Linked DNA regions of Homo sapiens: region 1 is linked to region 2. Evidence: fine-mapped expression QTL. A gene starts in region 2. The other region holds a variant in brackets. All regions are shown on one strand. Distances are from middle to middle.

What was found. PIP is the estimated chance that this variant, and not a neighbour inherited with it, causes the effect. A credible set is the group of variants that fine-mapping cannot tell apart.
Region 1: its variant is the best candidate, but not a certain one, in a credible set for the expression of AGTPBP1 in whole blood (INTERVAL, PIP 0.71).

Annotation. Positions count from the first base shown.
Region 1 is chr9:85,642,943-85,648,331 of GRCh38, reverse strand. It overlaps AGTPBP1 (ATP/GTP binding carboxypeptidase 1), which reads left to right. Exons shown (of 26, transcript NM_001330701.2): 12 at 1,914-2,011; 13 at 5,389. Among named protein-coding and RNA genes, the nearest start is that of AGTPBP1, 96 kb to the left of the region's middle. The variant A/G (reference allele first, on the strand shown) is at 3,113.
Region 2 is chr9:85,739,163-85,744,551 of GRCh38, reverse strand. AGTPBP1 (ATP/GTP binding carboxypeptidase 1) reads left to right here and starts at 2,598. Exons shown (of 26, transcript NM_001330701.2): 1 at 2,598-2,777. RefSeq lists silencers at 2,275-2,874, 2,945-3,264 and an enhancer at 3,435-3,584.

The sequences.
Region 1 (5,389 bases), 96 kb after region 2:
GTTAGGGTCGACTAAACTGCTGTTACAAAGAGACCCAGTAGCACAGTCCCTCAAGCAACAGCAGTAATAAACATTTGTGTAACACATACTCTGCCTGGCACTTTACGTATATTAACTTCTCTAATGCCCACAGAAACACTATGAGTAGATATCTCCATTTTATAGACAAAGAAACGAAGACAAAGAATTGATGTAACTTGCTCAAGGTCAAATAGCTAGTAAGTTCGGGAGCTAGGATTTGAATTCAGGTATTCTGTTTCTAGAACCCCTGTGCTATCCTGCTACAACATGGAATTTTTTTCTTTTCCTGTTTGTTGGTCACCTTCCACCCGTATGCTGTCTCTCTCACCTCTTAAAATTGAATTAAGCCATTCTTGTCTTGAAAATTCTCAGTGCCTATCTTCTTTATATTAAAAGTCAGTACTACTTGGCCTACTATGTTACATCCTTCATTTTTTAATTCTTTATTTTCCTTTCAGTACTTTCATAAGCATACTCTTCATCCTAGTCATACCTTTTGTTATTTTCTAAAGATATCATTTCACTTCCTTATTTTAGTAGTATTATTTCCTCTTCTTAGAAGCCACACTCACCCACCATTACATTCACATAGAAATCTGTTATACTTTCTACAAGATACTGCTTAAATATCACCTATTCTGTGAAGTGGTCAGCATCAAGCCCCTTGTCTCCAAGCAGTTTACAATTAGTTGTTGCATTTCTCGTTTTCCCATAGCATTTTGGAGTTTATGGCTTCATTAGCATTTATCTTTGGTATTATAATTACGTGTTTACTCCTTTCTGCTCTTTGACCTCATGAGCCACCTCATTCCTCATTTTCCCATAGTATTTTGGAGTTTATGGCTTCATTAGTGTTTATCTTTGGTATTATAATTACATGTTTACTCCTTTCTGCTCTTTAACCTCATGAGCTACCTGAAGGAAGAGACTATATTTACACCAAGCATGTCCAATATGCTGCCCATGGGCCACATACAACCCAGATTGACTTTGAATGTGGCCCAACAGAGATTCATAAACTTTCTTTTTTTTTGAGACAGAATTTTGCTCTTGTTGCCCAGGCTGGAGTGCAATGGCGCGATCTTGGCTCACCGCAACCTCCGCCTCCCAGGTTCAAGCAATTCTTCTGCCTCAGCCTCCCGAGTAGCTGGGATTACAGGCATGCACCACCATGCCCAGCTAATTTTGTATTTTTAATAGAGACAGGGTTTCTCCATGTTGGTCAGGCCAGTCTCGAACTCCCAACCTCAGCTGATCTGCCTGCCTTGGCCTCCCAAAGTGCTGGGATTACAGGCGTGAGCCACTGCGCCTGACCTCATAAATTTTCTTAAAACAATATGAGATTTGTGTGTGTGTGTGTAATTTTTTTTTTTTAAGCACACCAGCTATCGTTGGTATTAGTGTATTTTATGTGTAGCCCAAGACAGTTCTTCCTCTTCCAGTGTGGCCCAGGGAAACAAAAAGATTAGACAACCCGATTTACACATCTTTTGAAAAAATTCCCAGCATATAGCACAGTATGTGGCACATGACTGTCATTGAAACAAATAGGGGGTCAATTATAAAGGGATGAAGTGAGTCATTGAAATTTATAATAAATAGAAAACAGGATGTTTCATTCAGGCTATCGCAACATAAGACATTATTTTTAAAAACTGAGAACATTAGTAAAATTCACCTTTACAGTGCTTTCCAAATTTTGAAGCACTTTCTTATATGGTCCCATGGGTTTGTCAACAGCTGGGACAGCCTTAGAGAGATGTTAAATAAGAAATCTCATTTACTTTTTCTCTGGTGATTGAAATACTTTATATAAGTCACATTCTACCATTGGCTATGCATATTGTAGAATGCTTACCTCTGACCTACTTATAGCACATTTTGTATCATAGTGGATGACGTAGTAGATGAAAGTGATGACAACGATGATATTGATGTAGAAGCTGAAAACGAAACTGAGAATGAAGATGACCTAGATCAAAATTTTAAGGTTAGTATAAATTTCTGTAATTAGTTAGCTTTATAAATGATATACTACAGTTGTAAAACAAAAATTGGGTAAATAAATATATATGTAATTTTAGGTTTTACTTTGTCCACATCTTTTTACCATGAATGACTATGCAATTAAAGGGGTAGATGATATTGGTTTAAATCCACTGGTCTGAAAAGGACCTTAAAGTAACTTATTTTCACTCTCTCTGACCAGAAAGATTTTATCTAACCTTTCTGCCTTAGATTTTGAAATCTACAAAATTGAAGGAAAGTGATCTGAAACTCTCTTGTGGCAACTTATTTCAAAATGCATTATTATCCTTTGTCAGCAGTCTTTTGGGGATACAAAAACAGTAGGAAAATATTCTATAATGGATTTGTTTTTGTGAGAATTAGTGTTTGCATAATGATTCTTAGGTTTCAGTTAATTGAACAAGGAAGTGAAAAAAGTATTATTGAGAAAATATAAAATTATTGTCATATTACATAAGATGTTAGGTAAAGGTGGCAAGTAAGTTTTCGGAGTTTCATTGTACCTCTGGAAGCCTAGAAAGTCTGTATTTTGCTTTATTTATAGAGAGAGGACTACTCTAGCATCTGTAGAAAAATGGTCTCTTTTTTTAGCTGTTTAGCCTATTGCTGGGTTTTTTTTATGGGGGAGGAGGGATTAATTTGACTCTTTCCTGTTTGGACCAATTTTTGTCTTGCAAAACTGTATCAAAATTGGGGTACACTGAGTATTCGATTCACTTTGGAGATAGAAGTTAAGATATTGGAAGATTTCTGTCTTAATAGATACAGAACCCATTTTATAACCAGCAAATGTGATCACCAAGGTAAGCTTTGGCGAAACTGTCAAGTTAGCCAATCTAAACTACATCTATGTCCTGGCATCAGGTATTGCCCTTAATTATCTTGTCTCTTTAGTCTCCTTTAATCTGGGACATTTCTACAGATTTCTTTGTCTTATAACATTGACATCTTTGGAAAATGTAGTTGTTAGCTTGCATTATTCACTATTCACTGGGGTATCAGTGATTGCTCACGTTTTCCCTACTTTATCTTAACAGAGCAGTTATAGCAATAAGAACAAAAT[A/G]CATTTTATTATTGAACACTTAACTGTGGTAGTCCAAACTCTTTACATATACATAGTAACCATTAGATCCTTATAGCAACCCTATGAGGTAAATACAGGTTGTATAAGTACATAGAAAACAGAGGAAGAGAGAGGTTCTCAGTCTAGTTTATAAGAGGTGGAGCCAGGATTCAGAAAGCAGTCTAGTGGAATGTCCACTCTCTTTATCACTATACTGTACTAAAATATAATTTTTCTTCAAGAACTATGGAATTGTTGGCTTTTTGAGACTGCTGAGCTTTATTATCTTCTTTTTCTTTCCTACTGCTGCCTGCCTCTTACTCTCATTGACTTTACATTTAGACGTTACTTAATTTTTCCTTTTTTTATCTGAATCCTATTCCTTCATCCTTCAGGTGAACTGCTACATCATAGTGGGGGTATTATTTATTTGTGTTCTCTTATGGTTATAACTTTTTTTCCTGTGATTCCATTTTCTTTGTCCCAGATTTTTCAGAGTTTGGAGCATTTATAGAAACTGGTAGCTTCTAGAAGATTCATCTCCAGCTAGCCACAACTTGACCGTATATAAGTTTCAGTGCATTCTTTGTTCCTTCCTTAACTAGCAGAACTTTTAAGGAGTGGTAGCAGGTTGTTTTGTTTTTTTCTAATGAGTCTGTAAGTAGTCCTTCACTACTGTTTCTTCTTAAACCAAACACAAAATTCCCTGCTGTTGAGCTTTCGGAGTGTTGTAGTTTTCTTTCCCCATTATACCTGTTTTACAGGTAAAGCCTTTTTTTTTTTTTTCCTCTCCAAATAGCCACTATGTAAGGCCATATTTTCACAAAATAGTGTCAAATATTGAACTAGTATGTTTAGAGAAAAGAATATCTTTGTAAATTATTTTTTATTTTAGAAACATTATGTATTCTATTAGATGTTAAGAAAATTATTACATTATTGGTTCCTAAATGTATAATTTAAAGAGATTAAATTACATATTAATGTAATAATAAGTATACAATAATGATACAGTGATTAATATGATAACATTTAAATAAAATCAATCTCTATTATGCATATCAATGAGGAAAATCTTTTTCATTGGCTATGTAAATAATAGCTAAATTCCTGAATATGAAATAATAAGAAATACATAATATGTTTTTTTCTTTTAAACTAGTAGTTAATATGTGTAAGTATGGTCAGATACATGTATATAAAGTTTTTTAAGGATTGAAGCATAGTAAAATATACTTGTAAATTAGGCTGAAAAATAAGTAGCTTACTCTGGTAGTAAGTAAATACAAAATTAAAAATAAGTACCAACTGAAAATTATTAAATGGTATTATTATCTCTCTTCAGCCATAACAAAGATAATAATTAGTTTGTGTGAGGCCAGAGTCATTGAGGATCCTAGAAAATAGCTTGGGTAGTAGATAATCTGACATTTGCCCTCTTATCATGGGATTCATTAGCTCTTCTCTGAAGAGCATTTAGAACACATTGATCCTGGATACATATCTTGTTTCTCTGAGGACATACTTTTCCTTTAAATCCACCTGCTTTTTTTCCTAGAGAGACATGGAAATCATTTCTGGCTCTTGTTCCACTCCTGACTTTTTTCCCCCACTGAAAACAGAGTGAATGGTGACACTGAGTTTTTCTAAAAGAACTTTATTTCCCATGCACTCTAAGATTGTGTGATCATCATTAATCTGTATTGGGGCAGTGTGTGATGCTGGCTGACAGTGTGGTGCTTCAGAATCACTCTAACTGGTTTTTATCCTGGCTCCTGTCTTTGCAAGATGTGTAATTTTCAGCAAATGGCTTAACTTCTCCGTACCTCATTTTCCTCTTCAGTTAAATGGGGGTAACTTCATAGTGTTCTTATGCAGAATAAATTAGATAATAGATGTAAAATGCTTAGCATAGTGTTTCATTTATTTTCAGTGCTTAATGTTAGCTGTTTTATTATCACCATCATCATATATATGTATGTTTTTCATAATGGAGTCTTGATCTTTACACAAGTTTTTCTGTTTTGAGTAGCCAGAATACTCTGTTATATTAGAGTAACCATGACAAAAACAAAACAAAACTACCCAACAATAACACAACAACCCCAAAACAATAAGCAAATTTGAATTTAAGATAAAATTAATGCAGTATTTATTCAGTAATTATTCTTTAATTACATGTAATTAATAACTTGGAACATTTTAAATCTAAAATGTTTTCTGTAATTTTTAAAAATTTTGTTTTACCTGATAACATACTCTTTTTATCATTTCAGA
Region 2 (5,389 bases):
CTTAACAAATTCTACTTCACTCACTCTTCAAGTGTCCGTGTACCTGATTTTTCCTGGTCTTGAGACAAGAACCTGGATCTAGCTGAGCTAAGGAGGAAACAATCCTGGATCAACATGGTTTATTGCCATGTGAAGATAATTTATTTTCTTAGGTTCACAATGTATAGAGGCAGAGAATTAAGAGAATAATTTCACAGGGAATACACTCCATAGATGATGTTTATTAACTACATAGTGAGTGAGTTCCAAAACTATTAAAACCTAGTTGTTCAATTAAGATTGAAGCAGACCTCTGTGGAAAGTAAAGTCTGATTAAGGATTGAGGTGGGTGTGGTATTAATGCCTGTAATCTCAGCATTTTGGGAGGCTAAGGCAGGAGGACTGCTGAGCCCAGGAGTTTGAGACCAGCCTGGGTGACTTAGGGAGACCCCGACTCTACAAAAACAATTAAAAAAATTAGCCAGGTGTGGTGACGTGTGCCTGTAGTCCCAGATACTCAGTGGGAGGCTGAGGTAGTACGATTCATTAAGCCTGGGAGGTCAAGGCTGCAGTGAGCCATGATTGCACTACTGTATTACAGCCTTGGCAACAGAGTGAGAGTCTTGTCTCAAAAAAAAAAAAAAAAGAAAGAAAAAGAAAAAGAAAAAGAAAAACAACTGAGGTGTACCTTTACCTTTTGGAGGCTGAGGTTCTCGGGAGAGATGGTGTCCAACATACAGGAGATCGGTGAGGATATGCAAGGTCCCACGATGCTAGAGGGCTGTGCCAGTGTTGGTGGACAGGCTTCAAAGCTTAAAGGCTAACAGGGTGTGGCCCTGTTGCAGCCTGAGCTGGTAGCGTTCAGGGAAGTGGCTGACAGAGCACGCGATCTGCCACCCGCTGAGCTCTCAAAGTATCTTGCAAATTCTTGAGTTTATATGTATTTCGAAATCCTGTAGTTGAGGTCAGTAACATATATATGGTGTTTGATAAGGTGTAACGTCACATTAGCTAGGAGAGGTGAAGTTTATTTCAACTTCATACACGTGGGATCTGATGAAGAGTGATGTCACATTCCCAGGGGGTGGGGGAGTAGCTCTAAGTTCTTAATTACCGCAAAACATAAATCACTCACTCTTGTGGCAAACTATGTGATTGGAATCATTTCAAAGCTATGTAATGCTGCTATTTATCTTGTGTGGGTTAATCTCCTGGGTCTGTGTTGTGGTCATCAAACTATGCTAACAGTGCTTGTGAAAGTGGGATTCAAATTCCACAAACACACACATCCACATAATATCTTCCTATATTGCAGGTTGACTCATTTAGAAACATGTTCTTTAAGAAAAGTTTCAGGTATATTACATACATATTTAGCATTATTGTAAAATTATTACATTATTATTGGGTATTTTCAGATAATACGTTTCTGATTGGGTGGTTTGGGGTGGTGGTTGTTTCAAAATTATTTTAAATACCGTAACCTATCTTTTAGTGCTCACGATGAGGGAAACTACGATGTTTATAAAATGGCAGTTTCTTGTTCATCTGAATAAAGACATCTACCAAGGGCAAACTGTAAGAAGCACTGTGGTGTACCTTGGGTTACTTTTTGAATTGCTTTCACACCTGCTTAATTTTATTTGAACAAGATCATAAAACAAAACAAAAATCTCACAGTTCTCAATGCATTCCCTTATCTAGTTGTGATATTACATTCCTTACCATAAACAGTAGCAAACATGTTCTTGTGCAACGTGAAAAAGTAAATGATGTCAGTATTTATTTGCAATACATTGCAGTACACTGAAGTACAGTCAAAACAGAAGGGGGTGTATTAGTAATTTCTCTGACACATTACTTTGGCTCAGATAAAACATTCCGCCTTTGCCTTCAGTAGCCAACTTAGCATTACCGTTTTGATTATATGCAGGCACTTTTTCAAAAAACAGTAAATCAGCATGCTATTTTGTTCGCTGCAGCACTAGGCATCTAATTTACTGAGATTTGGCCACAAGGTGCAATCCTGTTGTTTTCTGGGAGCCCGATTGTAGTAACAGCATGTCCCTTCCAGCCTCTTATTATGGACCCTCCTTGAGGTCAGGAAAGGTCTAAGCTTTACCGCAGTCCCCAGCGTTTGATGCGACCCCGGGATCACGTGGGGAGCTTTAAGAACCCTTCCTAAGAAAGTGACTGATTGATGGCGGGGGAGGGGGTGGGCGCGGGCTTAGTTCCGGGAAAAGGCTGGGGCCCTCGTTGGGAGTGTACAGAAAGATGACTTGAAGAACGTGGGGAGTCGCTCGCAGTTCGGTACGGAGGGGCGGTGGCCGGGGCTGCTGGGTACAAGGGACCGGCAGCGCGCGGAACACCCGCCCCTAATTCCCGCTCCCGTGCGCGCTCCGCCCCCACGCGCGCGCTCCCTCCCGTCAGGCGCGCAGAGAGGCGGGGCGCAGCGCGCACGGAGGTAACAAGGGACGCGGCGGGAAGAGGGCGTGCGCTCCGCCCCGCCCCTTTCGCGGCCTCGCACGCCCCGCCCCCACTCCCTGCGCGTGCTGGGAGCCGGCTGGCAAGGCGTGCGGTGGGCGGGGCGCCGCGCTGACGTTGCCCGGGATGCGGACAGGTTCCGCCGCCTCCAGCGCCGCCGCCGCAGCTGCCGCCGCCGCCGCCTCCGCCTCGCCTGCCACCGGGGTTTGTATGAAAACACCGGGCGGCGGGCGGCGAGGGATCCGCCGTGATCCAGGTGCTGAGCCGGGTGCTGCGGCTCTGCGCGGTCCCCGCCAGCGCCCCATCCTGAGCCGGTGAGCGCCCTGCTGCAGTCCTCATGTCCCGGCCGGCCGTCCCTCTGCTCTCCCCGGGCCGCGGGAGATGCGAGCGACGGCGCCCGGGGGTAGGAGGGGCGACCCCGGATCCCTGCGCCCCTTACCTGACGGGTTGTGTAACGCATGTTACACATGTGACGCGTGAGGGGAACGCACTCGGTCTTGAGGGAAAGCCCTGACGGGGTGGGGCTTTGACTGGGTCTGGAAAACGCCTTCCCCAGTCCCCGGACCCTCGGTGGATCCCCGTCCCAGACCTTGCGGAGGGTATCGGGCGCGGTCTCTGGGCGGAGGCCGCCCTTTCTGCTCAGCCCTTTCTCTCGGGCCCGAGCTCGCGGCGCCGCGGGGAGTCCAGCCGAGGGGCTGCAGGGCCGGGGGCGGGCGCGCCCAGCCCCGCTCTCCCCCGCCCCAGTGGTAGCGGGCCGCTGAATCGCGGGCCCCTGTGCTTCGAGAATTCTAGCGTTCCCGACTGAGCGCCAGCAAGGTGGGATTTGCTGTGACATCGGCGATGGGCACGTTTGCTTCCTCTCGCTGGGTGGTTTGAGCTGAAGTGTGTCTTCTGTTTACAACTTGTCGCCTTGAGCGTTTGGTTTGAACCTGAATCAGATCACCCTGGATGACAGTGCAGAGTTTCCTTAGTGTCTTCCTTCCTGAATTGCGGGTTCTCAATTGCAAGTGTTCAAGGACTGTTGTAACCCAAAGGCTTGCTCGACTCTACCGTTGTTTTACCCCTTGTGCGGTATAAACCTCTTACGAGCACCAGGGCAATTGGAGTTGGTTGGGTTCCTTTCTTGGGCGTTTACTCATTGTAGAATGGAGTTTTCATGCATCATAGTGTAATCGATGTGAATGTTGATAATTTAAAGCCCATTTCCCGTTTTAACATAGCTTACTCAAGTGCCTGAAGATAGCGGAAATTTTCTTTGGCAGTATTAATTCTATGTGGGTTTTTTCCTTCAGGTGTTTAACATTGTAGTTGTGTTTAATTACAATGCATGACAATTTGTAGTTAGAAAGGACCTTAACAGTCTTCTTAATCGGTCATTTTCACTTACCTTTTATGTCCGTTTTTTAAGCTTTATGTAAATCAAATTATCCTTTGTGAACTTCTGAATTATTCTTATAAACTGGTTGTCTGAGAAAACCGGAAAGTTATTTTTGTAATTGTATTGTGGAATGTTTTTAGTTCAGTAGGCCAAAAAAGAAATGATTTATTTAAGGAACTTTAAATGGTGCTTATTTTAAAACATGTGCCAAATGTCAAAACCAAACAAAACTCTGAAAGATCTGTATTTCCTATGTAGAATTACTGCGAAATAATAAGTCGTGCCTTACCCACTGTTTCTCATCATGCAGGCAGAGTTCTAATATGACTTGCTCTTTTTCCCATTCCACTTCTCTTAAGTTAAATTCTATGGTGAAGTTACAGGTTCATTTTTAATGATCACAAAACTCTGCCTTGAATTGATTAATCACATAATTACAACTGCAGACTCACTCTGAACTCGGAAATGAAGTGGATAGGCTTAAAACTACCCTCGTATTTGGCCAACATTGCAAAGCATTTAAATCTATTAATTAAACTTTTGTAGAAGCAATTTTTATAAAGCTTTTCCGAATTGAGGCATTCTTCTCTTTAGAAAAGTCTGGCTAGGCTGCTATATAATAATGGTTTTACTTCCATTAGCAGAAGGAAAAGAGGTCCAACAGTTATGAAATTTTGTAATTTGTATTTTACTTTTTTTTTTTTTTTGAGACGGAGTCTCACTCTCTCGCCCAGGCTAGAGTGCCAGTGGTGCGATCTCGGCTCACTGCAACCTGCCCCTACCGGGTTCAAGCGATTCTCCCGCCTCAGCTTCTTGATTATAGGCGCGCGTCACCACGCCTAGCTAATTTTTGTGTTTTTAGTAGAGACGGGTTTCACCATGTTGGCCAGGCTGGTATCGAACTCCCAACCTCAGGTGATCCACTAGCCTCAGCTTCTTAAGGTGCAGGGATTACAGGCGTGAGCCACCAAGCTTGGCCTGAATTTTTTTTTTTTTTTTTTTGAGACGGAGTTTCGCTCTTGTCGCCCAGGCTGGAGTGCAGTGGCACGATCTTGGCTCACTACAGCCTCTGCCTCCCGGGTTCAAGCGATTCTCCTGCCTCAGCCTCCCGAATAGCTGGGATTACAGGAGCACACCACCACGCCCGGCTAAGTTTTTGTTTTTAGTAGAGACGGGGTTTCACCATGTTACCCAAGCTCGTCTTGAACTCCTGACCTCAGGTGGTCTGCCCACCTCGGCCTCCCAAAGTCCTGGGATTACAGGCGTCCGCCACCACGCCCGTCCTGGCCTGAATTTTTTTAAACCTCATCCAAAGTATTCATCTTCCCAAATCTGCTTTTCTTGCTTGAAGTCCCCCACTATCTGAAAGTTGAACAGTGCGTGAATAGCAATGGATGCACCTGTCAGAGGGCCATCTGCAAGATGGGAGCTTTCCTTAGGCAATGGGTTTCAGTATAAACAACATAAATTTTGTAGGGTGGGCACTGAATTTTAAACTTCAGATGTTATTGTTGATTACTGTGCCTGTGTACTATGGTGTAGTGGCTA